4 linked regions of the Homo sapiens genome follow. The main gene of each other region encodes a partner of the protein of the gene in region 4 in a complex. Each region holds a gene or a part of one and is shown on either strand. Other genes may lie near its edges. A codon is read from its position in the direction of its gene.

What was found.
Region 1: the proteins of GNAS (region 4) and TACR1 are in contact, whole or in part, in a cryo-EM structure (PDB 7RMH), measured with the Homo sapiens proteins. Residues at the interface, in NP_000507.1 of Homo sapiens: Arg38, His41, Val217, Phe219, Tyr358, Phe376, Cys379, Arg380, Ile383, Gln384, Arg385, His387, Leu388, Gln390, Tyr391, Glu392, Leu393, Leu394; in NP_001049.1 of Homo sapiens: Met63, Thr67, Asn68, Asp129, Arg130, Ala133 (codon at 1,453), Ile134 (codon at 1,450), Ile135 (codon at 1,447), Pro137 (codon at 1,441), Leu138 (codon at 1,438), Gln139 (codon at 1,435), Pro140 (codon at 1,432), Arg141 (codon at 1,429), Leu223, Gln239, Ala242, Lys243, Val246, Met249, Leu308, Asn309, Phe312.
Region 2: the proteins of GNAS (region 4) and GPR6 are in contact, whole or in part, in a cryo-EM structure (PDB 8TYW), measured with the Homo sapiens proteins. Residues at the interface, in NP_000507.1 of Homo sapiens: Gln35, Arg38, His41, Val217, Phe219, Asp323, Asp343, Leu346, Ser349, Thr350, Arg356, Tyr358, Cys359, Phe376, Arg380, Asp381, Ile383, Gln384, Arg385, His387, Leu388, Gln390, Tyr391, Glu392, Leu393, Leu394; in NP_005275.1 of Homo sapiens: Met107 (codon at 6,167), Asp165 (codon at 6,341), Arg166 (codon at 6,344), Ser169 (codon at 6,353), Leu170 (codon at 6,356), Ala173 (codon at 6,365), Leu174 (codon at 6,368), Thr175 (codon at 6,371), Tyr176 (codon at 6,374), Tyr177 (codon at 6,377), Leu182 (codon at 6,392), Ile248 (codon at 6,590), Val252 (codon at 6,602), Arg254 (codon at 6,608), His255 (codon at 6,611), Ala256 (codon at 6,614), Gln258 (codon at 6,620), Ile259 (codon at 6,623), Leu261 (codon at 6,629), Gln262 (codon at 6,632), Gln263 (codon at 6,635), His264 (codon at 6,638), Lys276 (codon at 6,674), Gly277 (codon at 6,677), Thr280 (codon at 6,686), Leu281 (codon at 6,689), Arg332 (codon at 6,842), Asn333 (codon at 6,845), Gln334 (codon at 6,848), Glu335 (codon at 6,851).
Region 3: the proteins of GNAS (region 4) and FZD6 are in contact, whole or in part, in a cryo-EM structure (PDB 8JHB), measured with the Homo sapiens proteins. Residues at the interface, in NP_000507.1 of Homo sapiens: Gln384, Leu388, Gln390, Tyr391, Glu392, Leu393, Leu394; in NP_001158087.1 of Homo sapiens: Arg226, Ala310, Lys314, Ser316, Cys317, Val396, Gln407, Lys409, Leu410, Phe413.

Annotation. Positions count from the first base shown.
Region 1 is NC_000002.12:75,119,309-75,126,992, forward strand, and holds part of TACR1 (substance-P receptor), read right to left. Parts: intron 1,461-7,684; coding exon 1,266-1,460; intron 1-1,265. UniProt on the Homo sapiens protein: This is a receptor for the tachykinin neuropeptide substance P. It is probably associated with G proteins that activate a phosphatidylinositol-calcium second messenger system.
Region 2 is NC_000006.12:109,973,265-109,981,747, forward strand, and holds GPR6 (G-protein coupled receptor 6), read left to right. Parts: upstream 1-5,046; 5' UTR 5,047-5,203; intron 5,204-5,429; exon of another isoform or gene 5,430-5,511; coding exon of another isoform or gene 5,512-5,538; intron 5,539-5,830; coding exon of another isoform or gene 5,831-5,848; coding exon 5,849-6,937; 3' UTR 6,938-7,456; downstream 7,457-8,483. UniProt on the Homo sapiens protein: Orphan receptor with constitutive G(s) signaling activity that activate cyclic AMP. Promotes neurite outgrowth and blocks myelin inhibition in neurons.
Region 3 is NC_000008.11:103,301,596-103,309,279, forward strand, and holds part of FZD6 (frizzled-6 isoform a precursor), read left to right. Parts: intron 1-7,382; exon of another isoform or gene 7,383-7,486; intron 7,487-7,684. UniProt on the Homo sapiens protein: Receptor for Wnt proteins.
Region 4 is NC_000020.11:58,901,421-58,909,104, forward strand, and holds part of GNAS (protein GNAS), read left to right. Parts: intron 1-2,107; coding exon of another isoform or gene 2,108-2,110; coding exon 2,111-2,165; intron 2,166-2,251; coding exon 2,252-2,371; intron 2,372-3,962; coding exon 3,963-4,060; intron 4,061-7,684. UniProt on the Homo sapiens protein: Guanine nucleotide-binding proteins (G proteins) function as transducers in numerous signaling pathways controlled by G protein-coupled receptors (GPCRs).

The sequences.
Region 1 (7,684 bases), on a different chromosome or scaffold from region 4:
TCTATTATCTCTCATTTTAATAACGAGGAGAGGCTGTGACCCTTGCCCAGGGTCATATGGCCAGTAACTGGCAATCTTGTAATTAAAATTCAGATCTTTTGATTCTAACACCAGTGTTCTTTTATGATTCACATAAAAAACCCGAGATTGGAGAATTATAGAGGGCTTTCAAAAAGATCCACATTATCCATGTGCTCTGAGTCCAGAAAACTAACTGTAATATAAATGTCACATTGTGGCTCACTTGAGCAGAATGAAACAAAGATATGCCATTTCAATGTTGTTTCAAGGATAAGAAGTCTTGGAGAAAATTGCTGGGATACTTCGAGAAACCCTAAATGTGATCAGGCAGGCCCCTAGAAGATAAGTATGTCTGCCCTGTCAGGGACCTGTAACTCATAAGGTCTCAATGCCTGGCCTGACCTTCCCATGTGTTTCACCTGCACATATTCTATTTCTCCAGCTGTAAAATCCTGGGTGTAGGTGTATTGTTTTGGTCTTCCGCAAAGGGGAATCCTTATCTCAAGATTTTCAAGTGCAAGTACCTTATTCGGGAGAAGAAACACCAGTAGGAAAAGGGAGCAGTGATATAGGGAAGATGCAGTGGCCAATAAAGAGTACATTACCCAGGCAGCTACCCGTGGAGATTAATCCCACAAGGAAAGCTCGGACGTGATGTAAAACACAAACCACAGAGACACACTCCCCTGAGGGGTGAGAGATGGGTGTTCAGATGCCAGCTCCCCTTAGGCATTGTTCTTTTTTTTTGGCAGTGCAAAGTGAAAGCAAGTTTATGAAGAAGGTAAAGGTATAAAAGAATGGCTACTCCATAGACAGAGCAGCCCCTCAATCATTGTTGAGAGCTGCTGGGAGTGGGAGGTAATTCCCCACCTTCCTGCAACCTGTGCAGGAGAGAAGAGCGGCATTCTGTAGCTTAGGAAAAAGTTCCTAGGCAAAGAAAGGCAGATCCCGGCAGGGTAATGTCTCTGGTAAAAGGCCCGAGGGATATGGCTCTGCTATAACAGGATCTAGATCTTACACTTCAAAAATTATCTTTCAATGCTCAGAATAGTATTTGGGATACTATAGTCCCCTGACAACTGTGGACATATCAACCTGATATGAGGGTATATGTGAGAAATGCTTGCAGATACACATTAAATCTGTACCAACAAAAGAATATGGAAAGAAAGAAAGAGCAAGAAGGGGCCAGGAAGGCAGCCTGCACCATCGTTTCTTTGGCATGGGGAGTCATCTCTACTCACACTTTCTCATAAATCTTGTTCGGATGCTCTGGCCATTCGATCATGCACACGACTCTGCTGGGCATGGTCTCTGTGGTTGAGTAGTAGCCCTGGGGGAAGGCCAGCAGGAGAGCCAGGACCCAGATGACACAGATGACCACTTTGGTGGCTGTGGCTGACAGCCGGGGCTGGAGGGGATGTATGATGGCCATGTACCTGGAACAGAGAAGAAAGAACAAAGTTCTGATCTGGTCACCAAAATCTGTATCAGAGATTCCATATTTTTCCTGCCAATAAGAAAATTCATAGAAACCCTTTGATTCCTGATGATTTGTACAATTATTTTCCAATTCCTTTTCCATATTCTACCCTTAAGCTTTGTGATATGCCATACAATGCCAACATGCGTAAGAAAAGCCAGCTAGATTTTTCAGTATTTCAGAACCTATCTAGCAGCATTCAAGGAGAGACATTTTCATCATTGAAATGCTTGTGCTGGGGACAGGACAGCCAAGTACAGGTAAGTGAAATTAGAAAAATAAGAACAATGTTGTAAATTTATTCAATGTAAAGACTGACTTTCATTCTTTCTAGATTAAGGGATAATGGTGATCAGAATAGTACTTTTTTTCAGTCCTTATGTGATATTATAAAAGATTAGCAGTCCTACCTCGGTCCATACAATTTGAGGGGAAGTAAACATGTCTCTGTGACAAAGCATTGGCCTAAAGTCAGCAAAAAACAACAGCTCCTGGAGAAATCTTCATCAATTCTTTGAGCATCTAGGAGTCAGTGTATGGCTAACTATACATACTTCGTGAAGAGAAAGACGGTCTCCACCTGCTGAGGCAGACAGACTAGAGTGCACAAAGGACCAGTATGGATGACACTTCATTGCAGGAAGAGGGGAGCACAGCAAATGATGACTTCATGTCTGGAGCCATTCCTCCATCGCTTCATTCCTGGGCTCTGGCACTAAACAGTGTCATCTGAATGAATGTGTCCACATGTTTGAGTTTGTGCACAGCCCCTGAGATGTTGCAGAGATTTGAAGGATAAGTATTTCATATCAGCCTTTCATATCAGTGATAAGCACATCAATTCTGCCTCTTTCATTTTAAAAGACATCTCTCTCTGCATATTTTTCTTGCAAAGTTTATAGCTCTATACCTTAAAATAAGCATTTTTTAAAAGAGAAGGAATGATATCTTATAGGGCCTTTGGCATTTAAATATTATCTGACAAAACCTCAGAATCACACATTGATTCTCTGACAGTCAGGTGTCTCTGACGTCCATGCGACAGAATGGTCAACGGAGACTTCAAAAATCTGCAAAGAGTAGCAGAGCTGTCAGCTGGCTCCACATCGTTCCACATAATTCTTTTACTGTATTCTTTGGACTCCTAGGATCTCTAGACCAGAATTAGGACCAGGGTTACAAGTAAAGCAATTTTATTCAGTATGCGCTCAATAAATTCCCACTGGACACCTGCCGCACATAGAGCACAGCGTTTCCTTCTGGGCTATAAGCTTGTAATTTCTCCAGGGAGAAAAGGTGCATCAATAAGCAGCTCAAAACACAGCAGTAGGATAAGTGACCTCAAGTGGTAATTGGATCAATACCTTAGAGTCTTAGGGGAGCTGCGGAGACACTCAAGCCCTGGAATGGCAGGTGGTCTACTGGAGGGGCTTCGACAGGTGTGCTGGATTTGGGGTGAGTCTGCTGAGCATCCTGCCCCAACGGGAGGAAGTGTTTGGAGCTTTCTTGTTTCTCCATGTTAGGATTAGGCTTTGTTTGCATGAAGGCTTCCTTGAGCATCCTCTTATCACTGTAAACTTTAGAAACTTTTCTCTGCATTTTTGTGCTAGGGACCTGGGATTTCCCTCTCTGGTCTGTAAGGGCCACTGAAGGTGTTTAGTGTATAGAGTATGTCTACTAGGAGGACACTTCATGCCAACCTTTATATCAGAAGTCATGACAACTCCCAGGAAGGAAACTCCTAGAAACTCTTTCTTCTGCCTCTTTTAGAAAGTGGGTAGGTGGTCTTAAAGTGAGGAGAGAGTGGAATTATAGGAACAGACTTGGAAAAGATATGATGTTGGGGGTGTGTAGTAATCTATAAATCTCTGGGCAAGTTTCCCTGGTTCTGTTGATACTATAAAGCCTATCACTCAAATGCTGTCTGCAGGTCATCAAAAGGGCAAAAACAACTCTCAATATGTTACAAATCAAACATTGTCTGTTTTCTTTAGGTTACCCCAAAATGGCCACGACTACTGCCAAGGCAGGTCCAGGACACCATAGACTAGATGACCTTCCATCTCTGGGGTAGTCCCTTGAAAAGGACCCTGAGAAGTGTTGATTTCTCCCCTAGACCTGTGTCTTCCTTGATGCCTGACAGTGGTGGAGCCCTGTATCCTCTTCAATCATGGGGTGCGGTGGGTGGGGGAAACTCAGAATCAGAGCCAACACATGTGGGCCTGTTCAACCATTATCGTTGCCGTCTTTCCAATTCAGTGAAGGGCTGGACCCAGATGGTCATGGCCAGAACCTCTTTGAGTGTTTGTATTAAAACCATAGGATTGCTTGTTGGATTATTTCCCAAATGCAGCGGTGAAGATGCCTTATCTCACCTCCAGCACTGCATAGTTCCTACCCTCACTGGCAGCTGTGCATTCTCAGGCTTCACAGGAACTTGAGGAGGATGCTCAGGGGAGAATGTGGTAATTACATTGCCCTCTTTTAATATTACCTCAAATGCAAGATTTTAATTTGTTTCTCATTCAGGATAAATGCTCAGTCTTAAATAAACAAATCCTAACACCACTCCCCATGCTCGAATTGGCGATACACCATTCAGAATCTAATGTGACTGGGCTTACGGGGGATTGCACCAGCGTATTGGCACTGTAACTCCAAATGGGTGGCAGAAAGCCATATTTTATCCTTATTGCAAAAATTGCAATTTGGGAACGCACTTCAGTTAACTCTCTACCGTTCTTTAGTGTAGGAGCCATTTTAGTGGCAGATGAAAGTATTACCCACATAAAGCCAGAGAGAATAAAAAAGACTGGCTTTAAAAAATGTATATATGTTCATTTGTTCAAAACAGAGGTGTTTATAAATCTCCCTCCCTCCTTCCTTCCCTCCTTTCCTCTCTTTCCTCCTTTCTTCTATCCCTCTCTTGCAATCCTCATTTCTGGGGCTCGTTTAACATGTTTTTTTCTTATTCACCCAAAAGCTAGTACCATTTGGATAACCTGTACACAGATGGATGAATATTTTCTTTCCTACTCCCCACTTCTAGCTAGGATTCATTAACATACATTTATATATTTATCTGGAACCAGCCTGAGCAATTCTTGCTTATTTGGTTATAAGATATTACGGAGCAAGTGCTGCAAACCCAAGGAAAATACATTCAATAAATATTTATTGACTGCACCGTGCTCGTGGGACTCTAAGGCAGTCAATGAAACGTCTTTCTGGTGTAAGCATTAATCATTAGGCTGCCAGCGACAGGGATCTGGAGGCGTGTGGGATATGGATTATGTTCTTTACTTCAGGTGGTTCCAGTCCCACTGAGGGCCATCAGGACTGATTTGAATTGTATGTGTCCTCCCAGCTGAAAAACCTGAGATGTAGCCTTCCTCTTGCATGATGATGCTTTATAAAAAGAACTCTCTGCTGCACATTTGTTTTTTCTTGTAGGCAGAGTGAAAACAATCTTATTGTGAAAAGGAATTTCAATCCTCTGACAAGCGGCAGTATCTTCATAACTTCCTGCTATACCAGTCCCAAATCACTCAGCAGAGAGAACGTCTTTCCTCTACGATGAGATTTGTCCAGTGGGGCCCTTCTTCCACAGTCTTTCTCATCCAATTCCAGTTTCTGCCCTCACTTCTCCCACTCACTCCTGGGGTGTTACAAGTTTCCTTTAAGGGACCACATCTTCCTGAGTTCAGATAACCAGGGTGGTAATAGCTGAGAGTGTGGCTGCTATAGTCTAGCTCAAGGGTTGGCAATTTTTTTCTGGGAAAGACAGATATTACATATTTTGAGTTTTGTGGTCCATATAGTTTCAGTTGTAATTATCAAACTCTATCTTTGTAGTGTGAAAACAGCCACAGACAGCAAAGAAACTATTGGGCATGGCTGTATGATAATAACATTTTATTTACAAAAACAGGAGGTAGGCTGCATTTGGTCCCTGGCCCATAGCTTGCTGTCCCCTGGTCTAGTTTACAGGAAGCGAAGAGCAGGAGGAATTAGAACCATAGGAGAAGATGGTGTGATATTCAGAAACACTCTTTACCTTTGGCAGATGGGAACTCATTGGGTAGATAACTCCTGTGTCCCACAAGCAGTGAGTAAGGTGGTCTACGGCCAGTCATGACCAAGAATCAGATAAGACCCTGGTTCTAATGTGAGCACAGTGGTCAATCTGGGATGTTTTTCCTCCTCGATCCCTTCCTGGCTGTTCCTGTTTATTTTCACAACTTGGCCCAGTCATCATGTCCTTGTGGCTGTGTTTGTTGCCTGCCTTTACTGCTGTGAAGATCTCTAAACCTTGTGCTGACCACGCTTCACTTTATTTTCTATTTTCTTTTCTTTTCTTTTTTTTCTATTCTTTCTTTTTTTTGTTTTGAGATGGAGTCTCGCTCTGTTGCCCAGACTGGAGTGCAGTGGTATGATCTCGGCTCACTGCAGCCTCTGCCTCCCGGGTTCCAGCAATTCTCATGCCTCAGTGTCCCAAGTAGCTGGGATTACAGGTGCCTGCCACCATGCCTAGCTAATTTTTTTGCATTTTTAGTAGAGAAGGGGTTTCACCATGTTTGCTAGGCTGGTCTTGAACTCCTAACTTAAGTGATTCACTGTCCTCGGCCTCCCAAAGTGCTGGGATTACAGGCATGAGCCACCGCGCCGGGCCTTTATTTTTCTAATTGCATATCCTTCTTTTCTCTTTTCACCCTCCACAGGTCCTTGGCCTGCCCAGGTGCTGAGGATGTAGTAAATACTCATTGAAAGTTTGGTTGCATAAATGATATCTTGGCACATAGCAGTGGCTTCATGAATGCTTGTTGAGTGAAAATAAGTGTAAAAGGAGAAAAACATACATGTTATACCTTTATTCCTCCCAGTCTCAACACATGTAAGACTGTTATGTGAGAATAATTATTGCTCAAAGTGTTTTCTGTCATATAGACACCCAGGATCATCCTGAAGGAGTGACCTCACTGGAATTGGCTCTTCAGAATTTTTTATCTCTTGACATTAAGCCCCTAAATAGAGCCTCAATACCTACTTGTTGACTAACTTTTGTGTTGACTATACGTTGGGAACTGTGCAGGATTCAGTCTTTCTTAGTTTTTTATAGCTTTGATTTTAGGTTCAGGGGTACATGTGCCAGGTTTGTTCTATAGATAAACTCATGTTACAGGGGTTTGTTGCACAGATTATTTCATGACCCATATTAAGCTAGTACCCAATAGTTATTTTTTCTGCTTCTCTTCCTCCTCTCACTCTCCACCCTGAAGTAGACCCCAGTGTCTGTTTCCTTCTTTGTGTTCATCAGTTCTCATCATTTAGTTCCCACTTATAAGTGGGAACATGTGGTATTTGATTTTCTGTTCCTGTGTTAGTTTGCTAAGGATAATAGCCTCCAACTCCATTCATGTTCCCGTAAAATACACGATTTCATTCTTTTTTATGGAAGAATTATATATATAGTATTCCATGGTGTATATGTACCACATTTAAAAATCCCATCTGTCATTGATGGGCATTTAGGCTGATTCCATGTCTTTGCTATTGTGAATAGTAGTACTGCAGTGAACATATGCATGCATGTATCCTTATAATAAAATGATTTATATTCCTCTGGGTATATACCCAGTAATGGGATTGCTGGGTCAAATGGTAGTTCTGATTTTAGCTCTTCAAGGAATAAAGACTTGAATGTGAAACCCAAAGCTATAAAAGCCCTGGAAGGCAACCTAGGCGACACCCTCCTGGACAAAGGAAGGGACAAAGATTTCATTACAAGGACACCAAAAGCAATTGCAACAAAAGCAAAAATTGACAAATGGGATCTAATTAAACTTAAGAGCTTCTGCACAGCAAAAGAAACTATCAACAGAGCATACAGACAGCCTACAGAATGGGAGGAAATATTTGTAAACTATCCATCTGACAACGGTCTAATATCCAGCATCTGTAAGGGACTTAAACTAATTTACAAGAGAAAAACAAACAACCCCATTAAAAAGTGGGCAAAGGACATGAACAGACACTTTTCAAAGAAGACATACCTGTGGCCGCAAGCATATGAAAAAAATCTCAATATCACTGATCCTTAGAGAAATGCAAATCAAAACCTCACTGAGATACCATCTCATACCAGTCAGAATGGCTATTTTGAAAAGTCAAAAAATAACA
Region 2 (8,483 bases), on a different chromosome or scaffold from region 4:
ACACATGTCACAAACCTTCACATATACCCCCGAACCTTTTTTTTTGAAAAAGAGAGAGAGAGAGAGAGAGACTCCAGCCTAGGTGACCCAGTAAGACTCTCTCTTTCTCAAAAAAAAAAAAAAAAAAAAAAGGTGGGGGGAGCCAGAGACCTTAACAGACACCTCACCAAAGAGATATCCTCATGGTACATATGCATCTGAAAGGATGCTCCACATTACATGTTATCAGGGAAATACAGATTAAAACACAAAAAGAGAGAGAGAGAGAGAAAAGAAAATGGGGGGCATGGCAGGTTGGAAGACTGCCTCTGTGTTCATTTTCAAATACACTAATTAATAGAAACAACTTTCTCATTAACATTCTCATAATCAGTAAAGTTGGTGCTCTAAGTTGTAATAGTATACATTCCTTCATAAACTCAATAAAGTTATTTTCACTCTTTATGAAAAAAATACATATGCCTTTAAATGTTATGATTTATTTCTCATGCAAAATAATGTTCATTAAGTGAATTAAACCCCAAATCTCAACTTTCCTGCAGTGTTCTGCATCCTGTGGACATGTGATGATAATAATGGTGCTTTGCTCCTTATCTAAATTTGTGGGGAACATTAATTGATGCTGAGCTTCCAGGATAGAAGCCCTTTGGAGTGGGGACTGCCCACCTGGCATGAGGGAGGTAGGAACATCCCCGATGTGTCTGGACATGCTGAAGAAGTAGGTACCATAGAGCACTGATGCCTGAGGATGAGGGGCACCCCTGGGGACAAGCAGAAACAGAAAGAAAGGAGATATTTTTAATAGAATTCATCTTCCTCAGCATGTGTCCCCAAAAGATTACACTCCATCCAACACCATGGATCTGGACAAACAATGTAGTGTATTCAGTGGCCCTTTGTGATTTCTGTCTCTTGTAGCAACAATCTTTCTTAATAAACAGCTTCATACATCTCACCAAGCACTTGCTGTCTTCCTGAGATGTCAGCACAAGCACCTGGATACCACCAGATAGACTTACACTTCCCAGTTGAACACTATACTGCTTATCCCCAAGAATCAAGAACAGGGAGCGTGTGTGTGTGTGTGTGTGTGTGTGTGTGTTTGTGTGTGTGTGTATGCGCATGCAGATGCCCAGAGAGAGAGAAAGAAAGAGACAGAGAGACCAGAATTTCTTGCCAGTGTGGGTCTTTTCAACGTAGTTTTGTAAGGTTCTGGACAGCTTGGCTGGCTGCAGTCCTGATATTATGAAACAGAATTGATTTGCAAGGATTTGAGCCAGGAGAGGGCACACCTGGGAGGCAGCTGTGAGATCAGCCAGAGCAAGGGTGCAAATGCTGAGGTATCTTGAAACCTACAGCAGAATAAAGGGTTGGGACAACCTGAACCAGAGCCAGAGTTTAGTGCTCCCTAATGGGGCTATTGAATTCATCAGGGCCAAGAGAGAACCATGTGCCAGCCTTTATCTTGAGAGAGGAAGGAGGTTCTGTGTGTATATGGAAAATTAAAGGTCTGCAGAGGAGATGTAGTGAATGTGTTAAACCTGAAATTACACAATGATTTAGAGCTGGATTCTCACTGAAATTTCTTTATTGCAACTATTCCAAAAAGATATCCACTATTTCAGGAGTTTCACTACACACTAAACTGACAAAGGGATTGTTTAGATGAGTGTTCTCAACCCTGAGTTTTCTTTCGGGTCTTTAGAAAATACCCACTCCAGACAAAATGAATCAGAATTTCTGGGTGAGGGATCCAAAGATGGGTAGTTTTAAAAACCCTTCCATGTAATTCTAATATGCAGCCAGGATTGAGAACTGCTGGCTTAGGCTGAGATGGGAATGAGATATCAAAGGAAGCTAGAGAAAGAAAGATTGTGGTTGAAAGGCTCTGATTCCTGGGCTTAGCCTCAGACAAGAAAAGTGTCCTCATGTTTATGCTTAAATAGTGCTAGAACAGAAAGAAGCAAGGCACCTCAGCCTGTGATAAGTTGGTCAAAGGGTTGGCAATAATGAATTTAATCTGTGACTACCAATCAGAAGCCAAACTCTGAAGACCCCAAAACATAAACAAAACCAGACAAGCTGGTGGATGAATAATACATTTGGTTGTATGTTTCAGTCAATGATCAAGGATTCACAGAATAGAAACCATTCAAGGTAGCGCAAGATTAGGAAGGTTTGTGGTAGAGACCCAAAATGTAATTTCAAGGCATCAAGGGATTTGGGCTCCCAGAGCCAGGAACCAGACACTCAGGGACTGAGGTCACTCCTTTCACCTCTTGGTCATTTGATCTTCTTCATCTCTGTTCCTCTTCACACATCTGCTTCATTCTTCCAGAGCAGTTGGCTTTCTCTGATTAAACACTTCACACAAGGTCCAACACACAAGTGGTTCAGCTCTAATTTATCACTGTCTTTCATGTCCAGAGCCCAACACTGACTCACCGTTGTTAACGTGTTTCTTAGTTCAAATTTTCAACAGAAAAGGATCTGGTCACTAGCCCAGCAAAGGATGGCTGATCGTATCTAGCTTCAGTTGAGGTGTCAATCTCCTCCCATATACTAGGGTATGTGTGGAAAATTTCATGTAGTTTACAGGCTGAACACTTTAGGAGACCATTGGAAGGGCAGGTGCTTATATAGTAGCTATAGGCAAGGCAAGTAAAGAAGTCCATCTAATTTCCATCCATAACTGATGAAACAGACATATTTTGCTTTCCCATCTTCTACCTTCCAAAATATGGGTGGATATAGGGGAGATAAGGAGGAGTTTGAAAGAACATGCTCTGTCTGCCCAGGACCTAGTCTAGCATCCAAAAGAGGTAACCACAGATTGGCATCACTCAAAGTCAGTCTACATATCCTCAACCATCATTTATGTACATGATTCTACATGTGTTGTCTTCCTCTGGAAATCACTGAGAAATCCATTCTTGGTAATGTTGAAGCCTAAGGATATTCAGAGATCCTGTGGTAGGTTCAATTTTAACCTCATACTTTCTGCTACATTGTGGCATGTGAAAATGGAACATACTTAGATATTAAGGAGGATTCTCCTCCCCTTGGGCTTTTATCTGATCATTTGGAAAATCCTCAGTTAACATGCTGTTACAGTGGTTTGACGGCTCACTTGACAGCTCTGAAATAACATTCTTGACTCTTAGATGACAATCTTGTACCGAAACACAAAACGGCTCTTTTCAGAAATTTAGAACTTCAGCCAAGTTTTGGGTTCAAGAAAATAGTGGTGTGTGGATTTTTTTAAGCTCTCCAAATGGATAAATTGTGTGTAAACTCACTTTCTGTCCAACATCAGCTATTGCACCAAATAATTGAACTGTCATATGTCCCTTGTTCTTGTAATTAAGTTGGCTGCATTGAGGCAGGAATAGTCTGGACTTGGGGGTCATGTTTAAAGGCAGCAACCTAGGGTAAACTTATCCTCCAACCCATGGACAGTCTGAATATCTTTTTTCCCCTCTTTGGAGCTAGAGGCAAAGTGAAGGGAGGAAAGGGTCCACAGGGAGAAGTAGGGGGAGCACTAGCAACAAATGTTGCCAATTTTCACTTTTCCCAGACCATGTGGTCCCTGAAAAGTATGGCTGTGGCCTCTGTGCAATGCCATCATGCCAATGTGCAATCATCTATTTTAGAACCTCAGATGGCATCAACTATTTTAGCTCTTGCCCAGGTACAGCTACTGCACATTCTGGGAGAAGAAAGAGAATAAGAAGACTAATATTCGTATCTTACTGACAAAACAAAACACCTTTAAAACAAAAGGATGATTTATCTGGGCTGAAAATAAAACTCCTGCCTACTGAAGTCTGGTGCAGCTGAGTTATCACGATTTTCGTCCTGTAATTTGTTTTATAGGGTACTAATTAACAGGGCAAAGTCTGAAGCCAAGAAAGTAAATCACATTTTGCTGTTTTCCTTTTCTCTAGCAAGATGCAGACCTGGTCTTTAATTAAAGCGCAAGTTCCAAGGGCGATATCAGCTACCGAAATCGGGAAAACATGGGCCGAAAAGGTCACAGTGAAACCTGCTGTGTAGAGTTCAGAAAAGATAATGGGAAAGAGAGGAATTGCACAGGCAACCTCCAAAAGAAGAGATTGTTTTCCTCAGATGTCCCTGTCTTATCCATCTTTTAACTGCTCCCCATAACTCAGAATTTCTTCCCTGACTCTACTCAACTGAGCATGTACCACAAACATCCTTTTTAAAAATTGGATTTCAGGCCTGGTGAGGTGGCTCACACCTGTAATAACAGCACTTTGGGAGGCCGAGGCGGGTGGATCACACGAGGTCAGGAGTTCGAGACCAGCCTGACCAACATGGCGAAACCCCATCTCTACAAAAATTAGCTGGGCGTGGTGGCGTACATCTGTAATTCCAGCTACTGGGGAGGCTGAGGCAGGAGAATCGCTAGAACCCAGGAGACAGAGGTTGCAGTGGGCCGAGATCGGGCGACTACACTCCAGCCTGGGCGACAGAGTGAGACTCTGTCTCAATAAATAAATAAATAAAATTTTTAAAAAGTGAATTTCTTTTCCCAGATAATTCCTGTTTCGGGAACGGCATTTTTTTTTAAAGGTAGCTACTTTCCCATCAAACACCCCTGTCCCAACCTCCCCCTTCTCCGGGGTTTCTTTTTTGACCTGATCCCTCAGTGATCTTTGACGCTGGGCTTTGCTGCCCGGCAGGTGTCACTCATCCTTCACCCCTCCCCTCCCAGCTCACCCTCTTCGCCGCCTGGTCTCAGGGTCTTCTTCACTCCTTTCTACCTCTCCTTGTCTCTCTCCCATCCCATTCCTGGAAGTTCTGGACTGGAGGTGGTTGCTCTGGCTTCTCCTCCCTCCTAGGACCCTCAGATAGTGTTGGGGGCAGGGGGAGTGCGGCGGGGAGGGCACAGGATGGGCTGGCGAGGAGAGTGAGTGCTGGGCTCGCACCGGGAGCCGGGAGCCTGACGTCACCACGCCCTGCCTGTCAATCTGCAGCGCGCGCCGCTCGCAGCCGCCTTTTCTGCCACCAACTGTATCTCTCACTCGCGGAGCCGGCACAGCGACAGGCGCCCCGCGCTTGCCTCCTCCCCGGCCCGGCCGCCTCCTGCAGGCAGCTGCTCTGTTTGCGCGGGGAGCTCAGCCCGGCGCCCCGCCTCGGCGCCCATGACCAGCGACTTCCAGAAGTCCTGACGCCCCAGGTGAGTGGCCGAGTTCCCAGGGAACTTTGAGGATGTGGGGAGAGGAGGGGAGAAAGATATCCAGGGGACAGGTCTTTCCAGAAGAGGAGAAATGGAGCCAACCTTGACTCCCACCCTCTGCTGCCCCCATACACACACCCTAGTCTCTCCTCCCAGACCCCCTTCGCAGGGGTCTCTGGGCTCCAGGACTCTCCAGGCTTCGCAATGCCAGAAACTTCGCTTTCAGCACCGCGGACAGCGTCTCTGCTGCCCAGCCCCATGGGGATGTCCTGGTCGCGCCGCCACAACCCAGGCGGGACTCTCCCAGGATGACACTCCTAGCTTGGTGCACTCGGGTGCGTGTGCAAATACAGGCAGCCTTGGAGAATTGATCCTTGTGCATGTGAGTGCATGTTGTCCTGGTGTATATCTGCAAAAACTCAGAAGTCCGCGTGGGCATTTCACTCACTCACTCAACAGGTATTTATTTTGGGTTCGCACTTAACCCATGATTCCCCGATTTGCTCTGGGGTCCCAGGGTGGGGTGGGCAACTCAAGTGGGGCAATGCGAGAGGAGGCTCTACGCGTGGGGAAGTTTCCTGGCAGCCTGAAGTGTACACCTGACGCCTGCACTCCCTCCCTATGCAGGGTGCAAATCCGGCCGCGATGAACGCGAGCGCCGCCTCGCTCAACGACTCCCAGGTGGTGGTAGTGGCGGCCGAAGGAGCGGCGGCGGCGGCCACAGCAGCAGGGGGGCCGGACACGGGCGAATGGGGACCCCCTGCTGCGGCGGCTCTAGGAGCCGGCGGCGGAGCTAATGGGTCTCTGGAGCTGTCCTCGCAGCTGTCGGCTGGGCCACCGGGACTCCTGCTGCCAGCGGTGAATCCGTGGGACGTGCTCCTGTGCGTGTCGGGGACAGTGATCGCTGGAGAAAACGCGCTGGTGGTGGCGCTCATCGCGTCCACTCCGGCGCTGCGCACGCCCATGTTCGTGCTGGTAGGCAGCCTGGCCACCGCTGACCTGTTGGCGGGCTGTGGCCTCATCTTGCACTTTGTGTTCCAGTACTTGGTGCCCTCGGAGACTGTGAGTCTGCTCACGGTGGGCTTCCTCGTGGCCTCCTTCGCCGCCTCTGTCAGCAGCCTGCTGGCCATTACGGTGGACCGCTACCTGTCCCTGTATAACGCGCTCACCTATTACTCGCGCCGGACCCTGTTGGGCGTGCACCTCCTGCTTGCCGCCACTTGGACCGTGTCCCTAGGCCTGGGGCTGCTGCCCGTGCTGGGCTGGAACTGCCTGGCAGAGCGCGCCGCCTGCAGCGTGGTGCGCCCGCTGGCGCGCAGCCACGTGGCTCTGCTCTCCGCCGCCTTCTTCATGGTCTTCGGCATCATGCTGCACCTGTACGTGCGCATCTGCCAGGTGGTCTGGCGCCACGCGCACCAGATCGCGCTGCAGCAGCACTGCCTGGCGCCACCCCATCTCGCTGCCACCAGAAAGGGTGTGGGTACACTGGCTGTGGTGCTGGGCACTTTCGGCGCCAGCTGGCTGCCCTTCGCCATCTATTGCGTGGTGGGCAGCCATGAGGACCCGGCGGTCTACACTTACGCCACCCTGCTGCCCGCCACCTACAACTCCATGATCAATCCCATCATCTATGCCTTCCGCAACCAGGAGATCCAGCGCGCCCTGTGGCTCCTGCTCTGTGGCTGTTTCCAGTCCAAAGTGCCCTTTCGTTCCAGGTCTCCCAGCGAGGTCTGAAGGGCTCGCCCCGTGTCCTCTCACCAACACCACACCCCAACAAGCCAGCCTTTGGTAAGCTCGGTGCCTGCTGACGAACTCTGAGATCCCAATGGTGTGAGTCTGACTTTGGAAAGAAAAAGGGACTAAAGAGAAATGTAACAAACTTACAAGGACAAAGAGGCTTGTTGGCACTTTACATATACAGTGTATACATGTGTACATATATATACAAATATTTGTATCTTCTGGAGGTGTTCAGGATGTGGAGCTTCCTATTCTGTGAAAAACCAAGAAAAAGATATGGTTGTATACTCAAATTGTACATCACGTTTGTCAAACGAAGACATTCCAATACTGCTTAATTATAGCACTTTATTTTTAGCTGCTGAACTGCCAAAACAGTGTTGCCATTTTCAAGGGCAGGGAAAAGGGAGTAAAAGGTGTATTTTTGTCGTATGTGATAGAATATTTTGCTGCACATGCATCAACAAATTACAACATGTTTTGTACACGAATAAACCCATTACAAGAATGTAATTTGGGGTATGTCACTGACTATAGAATTACAATTAGCTGAATTGTAAGTGTATGAGTGTCTTTCTTTCCTTTCTTTCTTCCTTTCTTTCTTTCTTGCTTGCTTGCTTTCTCTTGCTTTCTTTCTTTCTCTTTCGTTTGTTCGAGATAGAGTCTCACTCTGTCGCCCAGGCCTGAATGCAGTGGCACAATCATAGCTCAGTGCAGCCTTGAACTCCTGGGCCCAAGAAATCCTGCTTTAGCATCCCTAGTAGCTGGGACTACAGGCATGCCACAGCACTCACCTTACTTTATTTATTTTTTTAAGTTTTTAAAATTTCAGTAGTTTTGAGGGTACAGGTGCCTTTTTTGGTTACATAGATGAGTTCTTTAGTAGTGAATTCTGAGATTTTAGTGCACCTGTCACCTGAGCAGTGTACACTGTACCTGATATGTAATCTTTTATCCCTCACCTCCCTCCCAACCTCTCCCCACTGCAAGTCCCCACAGTCCATTATATCACTCTATATGGTTTTGTGTCCTCATAGCTTAGCTCCCACTTATAAGGGAGATCATATTGTATTTGATTTTTCATTCTTGAGTTACTTCACTTAGAATAATGGCCTCCAGCTTCATCCAGGTTGCTGAAAAAGACATTATTTCACTCCTTTTTATGGCTGAGTAGTATTCCATAGTATATCTATATCTATATCTATCTATCTATCTATCTATCTATCTATCTATCTATCTATCTATCATCTATCTATCATCTTTTCTTTATCCAATCCTTGGTTGAAGGGCAAGTAGGTTGGTTCCGTATCCTTGCAATTGCAAGTTTATTATGTAGCATCATTCTCCTGAGAAAACCTTAACGTAAAAAAATCATATGCATTTGCACATTGTTCATAAACTTTCACTGAAATACCAAATTTATATCATTGTGGTTGGGGAGGGAGGGTGCAGGAAGGGAGTAATATATTCATGTGGCAGTATTCACAGGACAACAAAGGGTTACTGGTGTTATCTGTGCAATTTAGTCTACTCCCTTGGT
Region 3 (7,684 bases), on a different chromosome or scaffold from region 4:
GGGTCTTACTATGTTGCCCAGGCTGGTCTCAAACTCCTAGGCTCAAGTGATCCGTCCTGCCTCAGCATCCCAAAGTGCTAGGATTACAGGCGCGAGCTACTGCACCTGGCTGACCATTTTAAGTTTGAATGCTAACAGTGACCTTATAAATTCATATCACCTAGACTCAAGAGAGATGCATCCCTGCTATTAAATGCCTGTAATTATAAGATGGTAGCAACTAGCTTTGTTCTGCACGTCTTTTTAAAACCAAATTTTTTTTACTTTCAAAAAAATTACTTTTTAATTTACCTAGCTTCTTTCCCAAGTAGTTTTGTGCCTGGATATTATCAAGAAGGCTTTTTGTTCTTACCTCTTTTATATGATTGCTAATACTACCAATCTCTTCATTATATAATTTTCCACTTATAACTAACCTTTCTCATAGCCTTTACTAATGAAGTTTTTTTTTTTGCTATAAATCATACTTCAGTAAATTTAAGGATACAAAAGAAGAGAGCCATCAAGCAGTCACAATACCAGCATTAACCTAAGTCTATAGAAGAAAGGAAAGAGAAATGAAAAGGCAAAAATAATGTCACCCTGGCTCAGACTTTTAATCCCTATATGTAATTTCTCAGTGTATACTATTGTGTTTTTCCTACTGCCCCTTTCCTATTTATCCATATACAGTAGTATTCTCTTTTAGTTCCTGTATTTGAATGTCCAAAATCCTATAAGTTGAGAGTTGTAAGTGACCCTAAAGATCATATAGAGCTTCTTAACCTTTTTTATGACATTAACCCCTTCTCAAGATAAGAGAAGTTTTAATATTTAAATAAATAAAATGTGTAGGATTACAAAGAAAACAAATTATATTGAAATATAGCTCAGGTAAAGAACCCCCGAACCCTTCATTATACAGATGAAGAAACTGAAACCCAGAAAAGCTGCGATTTGTCCCTTTGAGCACTCTAATCTGATAGTCTTCTCTGTCTACATGGACCATAATGTCATCTTTAACTGGTTTTTTTTTAGGCCCTTGTCCTGATTGGATAAACAAGATAATATTTCTTATGATTTAGAATGCAATGTGTAAATTTCAGACTTTGCTACTTATTTGCAAACTTCATTTAGATAAAAATTAAACTGGGTGATTGTTTTACCTCTGTTTAGCTCTGTCTCTCTTTTTCCTTCTTACAAGTGCCTTGAATACAAAGTCTTGTTAGACCAAAAATAAAATCTCTGTGGCGCACACCTGTAGTCCCATCTACTCTGGAGGCTGAGGTGGGAGGATCACTTAAGCCCAAGAGTTGGAGGCTGCAGTGAGCTATGATCGTTCCACTGCACTCCAGTCTGGGCAACAGAGTGAGACTTCAACTCAACAAAACAAAATGAAAACAACAAAAACAAAGCAAAAGTTAACTCCCTAATCTTCAGTCTCTCTAGTGGTGCCACAATGATTTTATTATAATTCAAATTTGTGCAGTCCACTTTAGGGTTAAAATCCTTCATCATTTTCCCTAAAGCTGGGGAAAAAAAGACCTGGTTCTAGAGCACTCCAGGCCCTTCATGTGGGACCCTGGCTGCTTGTCCAGTCTCTCATCTTGTACCTTCCCACATTGCACACTCTGCTTCAGCCAACTGACCTATTTGGAGAATTCAAATCCATATTACTGTCCATCACCTCTGTATCTTTACACACACTCTATCCTCTGGTGAGCCGTCTGTCTACCTACCTTTCTTCACCTGCTCAATTCCTTCAGTTCTCAGTTAAAGCAATAACTGTTTTTAGCGAACCCTTCTTTCACCTTTCTCCTGAGCAAATTTAATCACCCCACTCTACACCCTTACAGTACTTATAATGTACAGTTGTTCTTATGCTATTTTACAGTGAATCTACATGTCTCTAGATTGAGAGTTTGTTGAAGGTAGGGATGGTGTTTTTTTTTCATCTGTATCCCTAATACTAAGTACAATGCCTCTGAGCATGGTAGAGGCTACATAAAAGCTAAATAAAGAAAAAGGTAGGATTTTATGTCCCAATAAGGTAGCAAAGGGAATTTTCCCTCCAAATCTTTACATTCCACTTCTATCATCTACAGTGTCCAAGTCAAAGACATACTAATATTTTTAGGTGGTTTACATATCATTCTTTTTCATTCTGTCTGAGCCTAGCTGTAATGAAATATATCAGTTGACATCCTCTATTTTGTTTCCCACATTAGCTCTACACATATTCATTAGAATTTGCTTAAAGAATTTGATTTTTAACCATTTCTAGTTATTTATATGAAGTAAAGGAATTCAACTTTTGATCGGACCGTTGGATTATAAGCTATATGAGTCAGTTTTTTTTTTTTCAAACATTGTACTTTAGTCCTTAAGTGTATATTCCAGTTGAGTACTAAATTATAGCTGCTTGTAACTTGGCTTTTACTAAAAATGTGTTTTATAGCTTCTCTAAAGATCAGATTGGGTTTTACACCTCCAACCCGATTACCTTTAGTTTCTGCTGGTTCCTATTGAATTTCCAGGATTCACTGTGAATTAGTGTTAGGATGAGGGGCTGAAAAATTGCCTGATGGCTATGGCAATGAATTGTACTCTCTTAGTCACTGAGAATTCCGTATAAGTCAAAAGATCTATCTCACTCCTTTTTTGTTCCTAGTTTTCATTTTGTAACAGCTAGCCTGTTTTATAGAATTTAAGCATTTATGGTCATTTTTAATCTGTGATTATATGAGATGGTTTAGAGCAGTGGTTCTTAAACTTTAGTTCATAGACCAGCAGCTTGTGAGCTTGTTGGAAATGCAAGCTCACAGACTCCTATCCCAACTTACTGAATCATGATCTCTGAAGATGGAGCGCAGCTGTGGTTTCACAAGCTGCCCAGGTGTTTCTTTTGAGTGTTAAAGTTCAAGACCCACTGGTTTAGAAGTTTGGATTGCAAATTTTTACTGTAAAAGACCAAATTATTTTGACTTTCCAGACCATACAGTCTCCGTCACAGCTATTCAACTTTGAAATTGTAGCACAGAAGCAGTCAGACAATATGCCAACAAATGAGTGTGGCTGTGTCTCAATAAAACTTTATTTACAAAAACAGGCAGTGGGCTATATTTGGCCCAGGGGCTACAGTTTGCTGAACCTTGGTTTAAAGTACTTGAAAATGTTTTAAGGATAGTATAGAATGAAATAAGTGGACATTATTGTGCATTCTTATGTTAATACATTAACTGAGTTATTTGTTACTTACTTTCCACATAAATTTTTTAAAGTAAAATTTATCACAAACCAAAAGGATCTGACTGGGACATCTTGGTTCTTTAGTTTTGTTTCAGAGATTGCTTAAAATGAGGGACTTCAGTTTTTTCCTAATTTTATTATGTGAACCTGAAATCATTTGTATTACAAAGAGTTAATTTACAATTCTGCATAGTAACGGGGCTTTGTAATGAAAAGGATGTACAGTCTAACTCTCCCAAGTGGAAAAACAAATGGCTACTGGTTTTCCATTGTGTTCCTTTTGTTTCATATCTAGAGCATTGTGAGATTGAGGTCCCTTGAGAGACTGATTTCATCCAGAAAGAGCTGAGACTGATCTAGGGAAAATGGAAACAGGAATGTTGTATTTTTCTTTTTCAATTGCCTTCATTGAGGTCTAGGCAAAAGCCAGGTCACGTATTGTGTTTGGAGCAGCAAGTGGTCATTCCCTTTTTAAACAGTCTAAAGGGAAGTGGGCCAAAAGAAAAAAAACAACTTTCCTTTCCACCTGTTAATATGTGCTGTTAGAATGTCTCTATTCAGTTAAAAATAAATGGAGAAAAACTGGATAAACAGACTTTTAAGGAAAATATCTATTTCTGTTGTATAGTGGCTTTTAAGCATTTTTATTTTCCTGCTTTTAGAAGAGTCCAGTCCCTTCCTGCTTTCACCTTTCTTCCATATTCTCTACCCTTGTATGTCCATACACAAATAAAGAAAATGTTTAGTGAGATTAACCTGTTTGTTTTTCAGGAAAGACTATCTGAAAATAACTGTAGCTATTCTGAAAGTAAGACATTAATCATATAAAATGAAATAAATAGTGAGAAGTGTTCCAAGCCAGTTGCGTGTATAATGACTACTGTTGTGTTTTAAAGGTAGAAACCTTCCTTCGTGATGTTGCATTGCAGTAGCAGGGAAAGTCCCTTGACTCCTTCTTTTGAAACTGCAGAATAAGGGCAGGCCTGTATGTGAAGAGAAAGGATATTTCTCCTGGGAGGCTCTGCTGATAAGCACAAGGTTCCTAGTCCATTCCTTAGTATTCCATGGGAAGACTGTTGTGATTATTTCCTTTCCCCAAGAATGTGGCATGTAAATAATGAAGCTTTATTACTCTAGGTTATATATTTGTCATGTGTTCATTCATATTTATTGAATATGTACCTGAATATGTAGCTCTCCCAGAATTACAGTTTTTCAAGTTCTAAGGTTTACATTAAAAAAGTAATTTATTCTAGACACATTCCTTTGTAGTATCAATCAGTTAATATGTACATTTGTCTAATTTCCAAAGGTACTCTCTTCTGGAGAAATGATTTAAATTTTCTAATGGTCCCTCACAAGAAATAGTTTAAAAATAACAAGTTTTCCATTATGGAAATAATGTAAATTCCTGCTTTTTGTTCTCTTGTATTCCAGGCTCCACTTTACATTTTTTAAAGAAGCTGACTTGCCTGAGATTGATCACATTCGTGAAAATAGGTAGCAAAATTTGCACCACTTTCCTATACAGTAGTCCATTGACATTCTCAAAGAATTTACTCAAGACTTTTGTAACCACTTAAACAGTATTTGCCCAGTGAAGTCTAACTGAAAACATTTAAGGGCCCCTTTAGACTTTAGTGAGCCTGTTGTTTTGCTAAGGTTCATCACTTTTTTTTTTTTTTTTTTTTTTTTTTTGAGACAGAGTCTCGTTCTGTCACCCAGGCTGGAGTGCAGTGGCGCCATCTCGCTCACTGCAAGCTCCCTCTCCTGGGTTCACGCCATTCTCCTGCCTCAGCCTCCCGAGTAGCTGGGACTACAGGCGCCCGTCACCAAGCCCGGCTAATTTTTTTGTATTTTTTTAGTAGAGACGGGGTTTAACCATGTTAGCCAGGATGGTCTCAATCTCCTGACCTCAAGATCCACCCACCTCGGCCTCCCAAAGTGCTGGGATTACAGGCGTGAGCCACCGCGCCTGGCCCCAGGTTCATCACTTTTTTTAATGACATTTTAAATTTCCTTCACTCAGTTTTAATCACCATCACTGTAAATCGACTTTGTTTTTGGTGCCAATTTAGAGCAAGAAATATAGCTTTTCTCACTGCATGGGAGTTACTGTGTATGTCACCATGAGTAGAAAGCACAAATCCTGAGCTTAGGATCAGAGGCTTTGGAGTCACTTGGTCTTGTTCACTGGTGATGTGGCTTGCTTCCATGTACCAGTGGGATTCTGATTCATGCTTCAGAAAAGTGACAAACGTTTATGTATCCCATATTTTCAGTACTCAGGGAAGCAAGGCACTGCCAAGATACTGCCACAGGACCACTCTGCTTAGGTTATGCTTTATATATTTTTAAGAAACCAAATAGTTCCTTCTTTTGACCCCTCTCAATTAAAATTCTAGCCCAGACTTTCCCTTCAGGATCTTACAGTGCCACCAACCCCAGGCCCATATTATGGTTCCTTTCATTATCATATTATTATAGCATCAGGAGCTAGCTGGTCCTTTCCCTGTATATTTCACTGAGACTAGCTGGTGTTTATTCATTCAACAAATATTTGAATGCCTAAATAAATAAATATTTGAAGCACTGTTCAGATACTTGACATACAGTAATGCACAAACAGACCTATATGCCCTCACAGAATTTATATTCTAGTGGAGGGAATGTAAAACAACCTATCTGTTTTTGTCATTGTACTTTCAGTTCTACTTTTTGACAAAGGCTTATTTTCTTAGATTACTTTTTTGCCCTTGTTTACTCATTTCCAAAAAATACTTTTAGACTTATTTTAATATTATTTTGCCCTGGTCATTCTTTCATTGATTTTATATAGCTCTTAATTCTTTTAACTCTGAAGAAGGAGCCTCCTTTCCTTGTGTTCTAAGGTGTGTTTTTTTTTTTTCATGTCCTTTCCATCTTAGGGTACCCAGACTGGTTAAGCAGAAAAGGAATTGATTATAAGAGTAGCAGGTAGCTCATAGAATCGCCAGGTGGGCTAGAATTCAAGCTCAGGCTGTAAGGAAACATGCTACAGCTAAGATGCTGGCACAGGTATGGTCTACTTGGGAACTTATAAGCAAGGGATTTCAGTGAGGACAACTCTTGGATGGAAATTATCCAGGATACTTCTTAACCTGACACTAGATAGTTGGTTGATCCTGCTGGAACATGATACCATATTGAGGGCTTAAGGTTGGTTACTGCTCTGCTTCTGGCAAATGAACTACTCAGCAGTAGCCAGATCACCCCAAGAAGGAAAAGTCTATGCTATTGGATCTGGGCACTCTTCTGCCACCATGGCCGTTTTGTTCCTGAGCCTGTTAAGCCTATACTGGTGCAACTAGAGAAAAGGCTGATTGACATCCACAGAGTAGATTATTTAGTCTACACATTTAAGAGCCTCCTCTGTCTTGGGGCCTTTGGGTTTGCATTCACATGCAAAAAAAATTTTTTTTGAGATTATAGGCCCATTTTGGAGAAGTCCAGTCACACACTGCTTTTCCGGACTCCTAATACCAGTTCTGTAGAACTCTTCCAAGCTCTTGTTGCTTGCAAGTCCCTATCTTGTTGTACCATTAGCTATAGCCCATGAATCAATATAACTTCTTACCTGAGACCATCTTTCTACTGATAACATAGACAGTGATTGAAGTTCTGCCTGCTAGGGCCACCTCTGAATGGAGTTATAATCCTATAGTAGCTCACTTACAATAGCTGGGGCCAGCTATTGTAAGCCAGGCTGTAATTGTTTCTTCATGAGTCATTTGGTGAGAGGGAACTCTGCTTGAAGACGTAGGTGTGTTTTAAGGAAAGAATTATAATATGGCAGAAGCAGGCATTCTGAGAATGCAAGCAATATGCTACTTTCCCGTATCTTTGAGATCTATCCAGCCACTTGAAGATGGAATGCAGTTGGTCCCTGACATCATGAGTAGGTGAGTTCAGTAACACTCAATTCATGAGAGGTAACTTGACCTGATGATCTCTAGATGTTCTCTCCTGTTTAGTTTCTATGAGGAACTAGTAGCAAAAGCCAAGGTCCCTTTTAATTATGTAGGGTTAATCTCCTCATCTGCACTTGTATCTTACTATGGCATCTAGGGTACATGTCTATGGCCTCATCAGCTTTATGTCTTTGATAAGTTAGATTAGTGTGATGTCCTGTGAAGTCGGTGATATGTTTCACTGACTGAAATTGAGGCACAGAGCTGAAGAGCTGATGATGTTCCCCTAAAGCTGAAGCTCTTAAGCTTTGATGTGCATCAGAATCATCTGAAGGACTTGTTAAAACACAGATCACTGGCTCCATCCCTGAGTTCCTGAATCAATAGGTCTGGGATGGGATGGAAAAATTCCACATCTAACAAGTTCCTAGGGGATGCTGATGCTGCTCACTCAGGGGCCACTTGTTGGGAACCACTGCTCTAAGGCAAGTTGGCAAAGATATGCT
Region 4 (7,684 bases):
GCCAGAATCAGATTTCAGATTTGTACACAAGGCCTGAAGCTCGCTCACCTCCCTGTCATCTGTGTTTCTGAGATTCTCCGGACCTGCAGCACTTTTACTTAAATGGCCCTGAGGGGATTCCTGGCAACATCTGTCCCCCCTCCCCACCCCAGACACCCCCCACCACTAATGAGCGTGGCCCCTCTGAACTTCCCCAGCTCTTCACCCAATGTAGAAGAGCAGTGGTGCAGTGACCTGTGAAAGGGGCTTCACGTAGGAAGGGGGCGAGATGGGATCCTTCAGCAGGTGAAGGCCCAGAAGTACACAGACATTTATTCAGAAAGAATAAATTTGTAAGTATAATTCTTTGAGAAAGGAAAGACCAAATGATTTGTGGAAGGCCTGTCGACAGGCCCGCACTTGACCCCACCGTCCGTCCCCGCCCCCCACCCCTGCTGCTCCACTGACTGCCCTGCCCTGCTCGTCTGCTCGTCTGCTCTTGCTAATTAACCTCCCTTCGCCTTTCCTCTGCCTTAACTGTCGTGTTCTAGTCTGGAGAGATTATATGTTTTAATTTCTACTCCAGTCTATGAATTGGTGAATCAGCCAAGTGAATGCTTCAAAAACTGGGACTCTCAAAAGATTAAAAAATATATATATACAAACCGTGAAAAAGATAAACTCTGTCCCCTCCATCTCCCATTGGTTTCTGCCTCGGTGACTCCCCCCCTCTTGGCCTCAGTTTCCCTGTCAGAGAGGCAGGACCGTAGCACCTTTTTTCCGCATGACAACGCCCTCACCTCCCAGGGCCTAACAGGTACAGCAGGTGTGCTGTGTGTGCTGGTTCCATTTTTGGGCTATAGACCTGATGAGATACATACTCCACACAAGAGGCCTTTTCTTGCCCTCTAAAAACATAAACTCGAGAACCTTCCCTGGCTGTGCTTCTAATGAAGGCTAGTTTCTGAAAAACATACAGCATTTGGATCAGTGTAATGTGGTACAAAAATTAACATTCTGTTATGGTCCCCAGAAGCCAAAGGGTGTGTCCTTTACCTGTGGGACCAGTGACCCTGAATATAGATCATTCCATAAAGACCACGCAGGCCATCCCATGTGGCTGAGTTAAACTCAAGGAAAAGCTACAAAACCTTCAACCTCTACTTACCAGAGGGATCTGACCTCCCCTCCCCCTTAGATTATAAGGCCTTCTAGGGGGTGGAATCTTATTTGATTCCTATTGCACATGGACCAACATGCACTAACATCATGAACTAGAAGTTTCATTGCTGCTAGCTGCAGTGCCTGGAGCATCGCACATACGACTTTTTTTTTTTTTTTTTTTTTTTTTTTTGACAGAGTCTCACTCTCGCCCTGGCTGGAGTGCAGTGGTGCCATCTCAGCTTACTGCAACCTCCGCCTCCCGGGTTCAAGCAATTCTCCTGCCTCAGCCTCCCTAGTAGCTGGGATTACAGGTGCATGCCACCATGCCCAGCTAGTTTTTTTGTGTGTTTTTAGTAGAGACGGGGTTTCACCATGTTGGCCAGACTGGTCTCCAACTCCTGACCTCAGGCAGTCTGCCCGCCTCAGCCTCCCAAAGTGCTGGGATTACAGGTGTGAGCCACCGCACCCGGGCTCCTGTAATGAACTATTATAAACACCACCACCTGTGCTCACTGGTTCTCTCAGTATGCTAGCAACTGAGTTAATTCCAAGTCAAACCATGGGACTGTTTTGTTCCACCCCAACCTCATAGTGACCTATCACTCCAGCCTCACCCCTACCCAGATGTTGATAGGACCAGGAGAAGCCTTTAGGAAGTGTTAGTATGTAGTGTGGGGGCTTCAAACCCATGAAAGATTAAATGAGCTGCATGCAACTTCTGGTACAGTCATGATTGCTAAGGCAATTTGCTAATCTGCCCCGATTGGGCGTGTCCTCAGGGCACATTTGGGAGGTTATAATTTGCAACTATGTTTATTCAGCTACCTCCAATCTTTGCACAGATCCGAACCCACAACTCCCTGAAGAACAGAATACTATGCTTTTTAGTCGGGATGTCTTTATGAAAGCAGTACTCCTAACTGACATGGTGCAATATGATTTTCTTTTCTTTTCAATCCCACTGCAGTGAGAAGGCAACCAAAGTGCAGGACATCAAAAACAACCTGAAAGAGGCGATTGAAGTACGTGCTGGCTCCTTGTGCTGTCTGTCTTGTAGCGCCCTCCCAGCCAGTGCTGTTCCCTGACCGCTTTGCTAAATCATTTTCAGACCATTGTGGCCGCCATGAGCAACCTGGTGCCCCCCGTGGAGCTGGCCAACCCCGAGAACCAGTTCAGAGTGGACTACATCCTGAGTGTGATGAACGTGCCTGACTTTGACTTCCCTCCCGTAAGCTACACCCCGACTTGTGTGGCCTTAGCCCCGCCCACCTGAGCACAGTGTCCATATAGGAACATGAGTGACAGCCCTGCACATGGGCAGGAGCATCCAAACCACACTTCAGGCAAAACTACATTTCAGTGATGTCCATCCTTAGGAAAAAGTTAATTTCATGTGTAACCTTAATTTAATAATAATAATCATTAGGGCTTTGTTCAAGATGGATGAGCAAAATTCTGTCACCCCTTCTACATCTTAGCTCACCTGTCCTCACAAATAAACATCACTCTTGAATACTACAATCTCACTTTATTAGATTGTAAATTTTTATGAGGAAAAAGGTCCTGAGCTATGGCAGGCTTAATTATTCCCTCATTCACATCTTAGGACAAAACTGTATGTTAAATATGGCACACAAATACTAATTGTCCATTTACTCCACTGGAAGTGCCCTAAGGTACCTTGGGATGCCTCAGTGAAGTGCCAAATGGAAGACATTCTCATTTTAAACAGGTGACCTTTTTATTAAGAGTTTTCTAAAGTCCTTGGGGCAAATGAAATCTTTTCTCATTATTAAAAAAAATGAAATATATCTAAATCATAACTCAAAAATCATAAAATAGAACATATGGAAAAGACTTTCCTCTGGATGCACGACACTGTTGGCTCCCTAAAGAACTACTTTTAGGGAACAAAAAACTGTTCAAGCCCAAGCATATAAGTTTAGGCCCCTTCGTGGGGAGAATGGCTTATAAGCGGGGAACGGGAAACGAGATGGAAAGATGTATGCGTTTGTAAGACCCACAGGGAAGAGACTTGTCTACAGCTAAAACAATGAGTTATTGTTGCCTTTTGTCAGGCTTTCGTGGGAATTTGTGTTTGTATATTTTAGATGGACTTGGCTGCAAACTTAAATTGGAGAAATTTAGTGGTATATAGTTAGTATGGATAGCTAAACTTTTTAAATAGCATTATTTTGAAAAAAAAGCAATAAACACAATATGTATAATATAACCCACTGACTTTCTTGAAATATGATTCTATATTTAATAGGAAAAGGAAACAGCAGCCTATTAAAAATGTATCAGAACAATAACTTTTTATTAGTCCTACTAACATCTGAACTTTTATGTTCCTACCTACAAGTCCCCCATCATCATTTTTTTTGGTAAGATTCACATTTTCCCAGGAGGAAAATTTAGTCCCAGCACATCTTACAAATGAAGTTTCTTATTTTCACAACATTGAACCATTTATTGGCATATTCTAACACATTTAGTGTATATTCTTCCTAAACAATTCTGTGAAGAAACTAAATTACTCAGTAGCTTACCCCATTCCCCCTACACACGAGAAAAGAAACTACCCAAAACCAGTAATTCACAATAAGACCCAGCAGCTAATTGCGTGAACTTTTGAATATGTTTAACGTGTTGAATTAAAGTTCTTTGTGAGCATTAATTCATTAATTGGGCTCAAAATTCAAAATCACACCAAGTGTCGGTCACATAGGGAACTCTGGTCTCAGGGTTTGAATGACAGTGTTGTTGATTAGTTCAAGCTCTTGCCTTTCTCTAAACTTTCTTGTGTTCACTTTCAGGAATTCTATGAGCATGCCAAGGCTCTGTGGGAGGATGAAGGAGTGCGTGCCTGCTACGAACGCTCCAACGAGTACCAGCTGATTGACTGTGCCCAGTAGTAAGTAACCGCCACCCAACCCATCAGCACATAAAACAGACAAAAACAAGAAAACATGAAAACCTGTGATCCTGCTTTGAAAGTTACTTGTTGATGATTCCTTTCTTAGAAGCCAACCAGTTACCCCACTGGCAGAAAGTTCTAATCTGATTCAATTGTTTATTTATAAAGTCCTTAATTGCATTTTTTTTCTTTTAGTGCAGCGACATTATTTTACATAAACATTTAAAGCCTGTTAGAGCAAAATGATGATGAGTTTCATAGTATTCCTAATTAGTAGGAAGTAATTAATTGAATTGACCCTAAGCATTTAGGGAAATAGGGCTGTGCTCACATTTTGAATAATGTAAAAATACTATATTTTATTGCTGTAATTTTAAAACATAACAAAGAGGAATGGTGAAGACATAGCTACGCCTCCTCTCTCCTTGGTAGTTGTTGATTGATCTATTTCTGCTCTCAGGTAAGCGACTCTAGTAGCTGCCTAGTGTTACTAGATCCTAGTGACTCTAGGTAGAGTTTGTTTTTGTGTTGTCTTGACTTTTGAACTCTATTTCATATCCTTATTTATTCCTTCTCACCGGGTCTTGATTCAAGGATGGTAAGTGGTCAATGGATTTTAAATCCTAAACTGTACACCTAAGCAGTACAATACCGTGGTGGGGTTATTTTCAAATAAAACAAATTACTACCTGCGAGGAGGACAGGTTAAGGCCTGCAGTAGCAATGGGAAAAGCATCTTTCTCCAAAGTCACTCATAAAGGTGGGCTCACCTGGTTGGTGTGTTGGCAAATGAAGAAGGGGGAACTTAAAACACAGACTTTATTGCACAACTCTACCTGATGCCCAGGCTGCTTCCCTTGCTGCCTAACACCTGACTTACCATTGCCTCAGGGATCGCCCTCTGTCCCTGTCACCCACCATGGTCTCTCCCAGAGGACATCGTACCCGATAGCTAGAAAGTTGCCTTTGAAATAGTTTATGGCTTCCCTCATCTTGCACATGATATAGCAAGCATGTGGTGGTCAGGGTTATTTAAAAAATATGTAAACATTATTATTATTTTTTTGAAACGGAGTCTCACTCTGTCACCCAGGCTGGAGTGCAGTGGTGCGACCTTGGCTCACTGCAACCTCTGCCTCCTGGGTTCAAGTGATTCTCCTGCCTCAGCCTCCCGAGTAGCTGGGACTACAGGTGCCTGCCGCCACAACCAGCTAATTTTTGTATTTTTAGTAGAGATGGGGTTTCACCATATTGGCCAGGCTGGTCTCGAACTCCTGACCTTGTGATCCACCTGCCTCGGCCTCCCAAAGTGCTGGGATTACAGGCATGAGCCACCGTGCCCAGCCAAAAATGTAAAGATATCTTCTGTTTGTTGATGCTGCAGAAATGCACAAAGCAGTCTCAGTTAATGATATTCTGAAGTAGGAGTGTCCTGTGACTTGGGGCAGGGGAGTCTAGTAGAGGTTTGATGTTTTAGCCATCCTTATTACAAGTAGCTGAAACTCGGAACTGATTTTGCTATAGGAAGTATTAGCTAATCAGAACCAAGGTGCCAGGCTGACTCACCAAGGGCTAAGATTGCTTTACTTAGTAGCCTCAAGCCCAAGGAACTGATTGTGAAAACCACCTGAATAAACAGGAGGGAGGAAGAGGTAATACTGTTCATCTATAAATCATATAAGCCTCTGTTAGGGTCTGCGCAATCTATCAACCCCAGCCCTGCCTTCCCATAGGAAATTCCTTTATTTTCAATTGCCACATACATAGATATTCCACGGTTTAATATACAAGCAAATGTGTATATTTTTTCAAGGAACAGAAAAAAACAGTCCATCTTGGCTGGTCCCTATGGCCCCCAGCCCCCACTCCTTCTTCAACAAAGTCCCTGATTTTCTCAAAAGTTCGAACCAAAAGCTGGAAGCGCTAATTATAGTAACGCAAAACAAATGGAAATCCTGGAATTGTTTGCATTTTGTATTTTGGATCCAAGTCAGAAGTTAAGTACAGGTACAAGATTAAGAGAGTTTAACCACCCCAGTTTTGAATGCTGGGGGGGCAGGGAGACCCAGTTTCGTTAATTAACAGTAGCTTAGCCAGATTGTTGAATTTTGTCGGGTTTCGTTTTCTCTCTCAAATCATTTAGAAGTTTTTGGGGTTTTTTTAAGCAACACTTAATTACTCCTGAAACTTTGTCTGAAAACGCACCATTTGTATAGATCATGAAAAGTTTTAAGGAAACTCAGAGAAAAAGAGAACAACGCAGCTTAAAACTTTTAAAATGTCCTCCCTCACCCGTGGCTCAAACAGCCCTGCATCTGCCGTGGCCGGCACGTTTCTGGTTGAACTGCCTTTATGTTAAAGTTCAGATACTGGTAGTGTGCCCATTTCTTAAGCTGTCTATTTTTATTTGTTGAGCTGGGGTTTGGCTGGCTCCACTCCAGATGTCTCTCTCACAAGATTTGGTGCTGATGATCTATTTATAGAACTGTGGTTCTGTTGCCATGGTAACATGCTGGAGGCCAGGGCGGCTGGGGAGCTATTTCTGGACTGGTGCTGTAATGTAAGATTGATTGGGCAAGTTAGTATATCCTCTAAGCCAGACTAACTCTGAACTAGTAAAAAGGAAGAGGGGAACAGAAAACTTAGGCAGTTTCTTTAAATAAACTTTTCTCTCTTTATGATTTTCTTTTCTCGTTAGCCCGCTTTAAAACAATTCCAATCTCTACATGCCCCTCCCTCCAAAAAATAACTGGTTTTAACATTAATTTTCCATATTAATTACCCCAATCTTTCAAAAGTAAATTTTCCTGTGTGTCTAGTCAAGCAACACAAACAAGATGCTTTTTTTAATGAAAAGCGTAATATCTGGAGTGTTCTATTTCATGGACCAAACAGAACGGAAGAGAACTTTGTGTTTGTTTCCTGTTCAGGATGGCTAGGGCGAGAAGGGCCCCTTTGTGCCAACCTCTTTTGTTCTCTTTAATCAATGAGATTCTTAAAAAGTAAAAAGGAAGGGATACAGATTCTCAGTAACTAAAACAATCTCGTGTGCCCTTGAGGGGAAAGTCCTTGATGTTTTTAAGAATGTCACTTTATTGTTTTTTAACTGAATGATATAGAGGTATACAATTTTCAAACTGTTTGCCATTTTAATCAAGCAATTTGAAAATTAAAATGTTTTTGTCAGGCATTACCAAATGGCACAGAATGTGATAGGCCAGCCTGGTTTTGGGGTCCTTTCTCTACTGGTTGATATGCATAAAACCTTCTAAAAATCAAGAATATTGCCAGAGAGCAACAGGAATAAAGAAGCTAAGTAAAGAATAAAAAAGAAAAATAGAAAAAATAAAAATAAACACGAAGAACAAAGCCCCACCACCGTGCTGTGCTGTTTGTGTGGCCCCACTGCGTCGAGGCCACAGGCTAGCTGCTAGACGCATCTAGAGTTCCCTGATTCCTAAAATTATTTATCTTAAATCCTGTTTGCCCTAACCTTCTTAAGGCATCAGCTTTGAGTTACAAATGTAACCAACACACAAGCAAATGTGCCATTGACTTAGTGCTGCATAACTGTGGGACGGTCACTTCCGTTGAGCCTGACCTTGTAGAGAGACACAAATA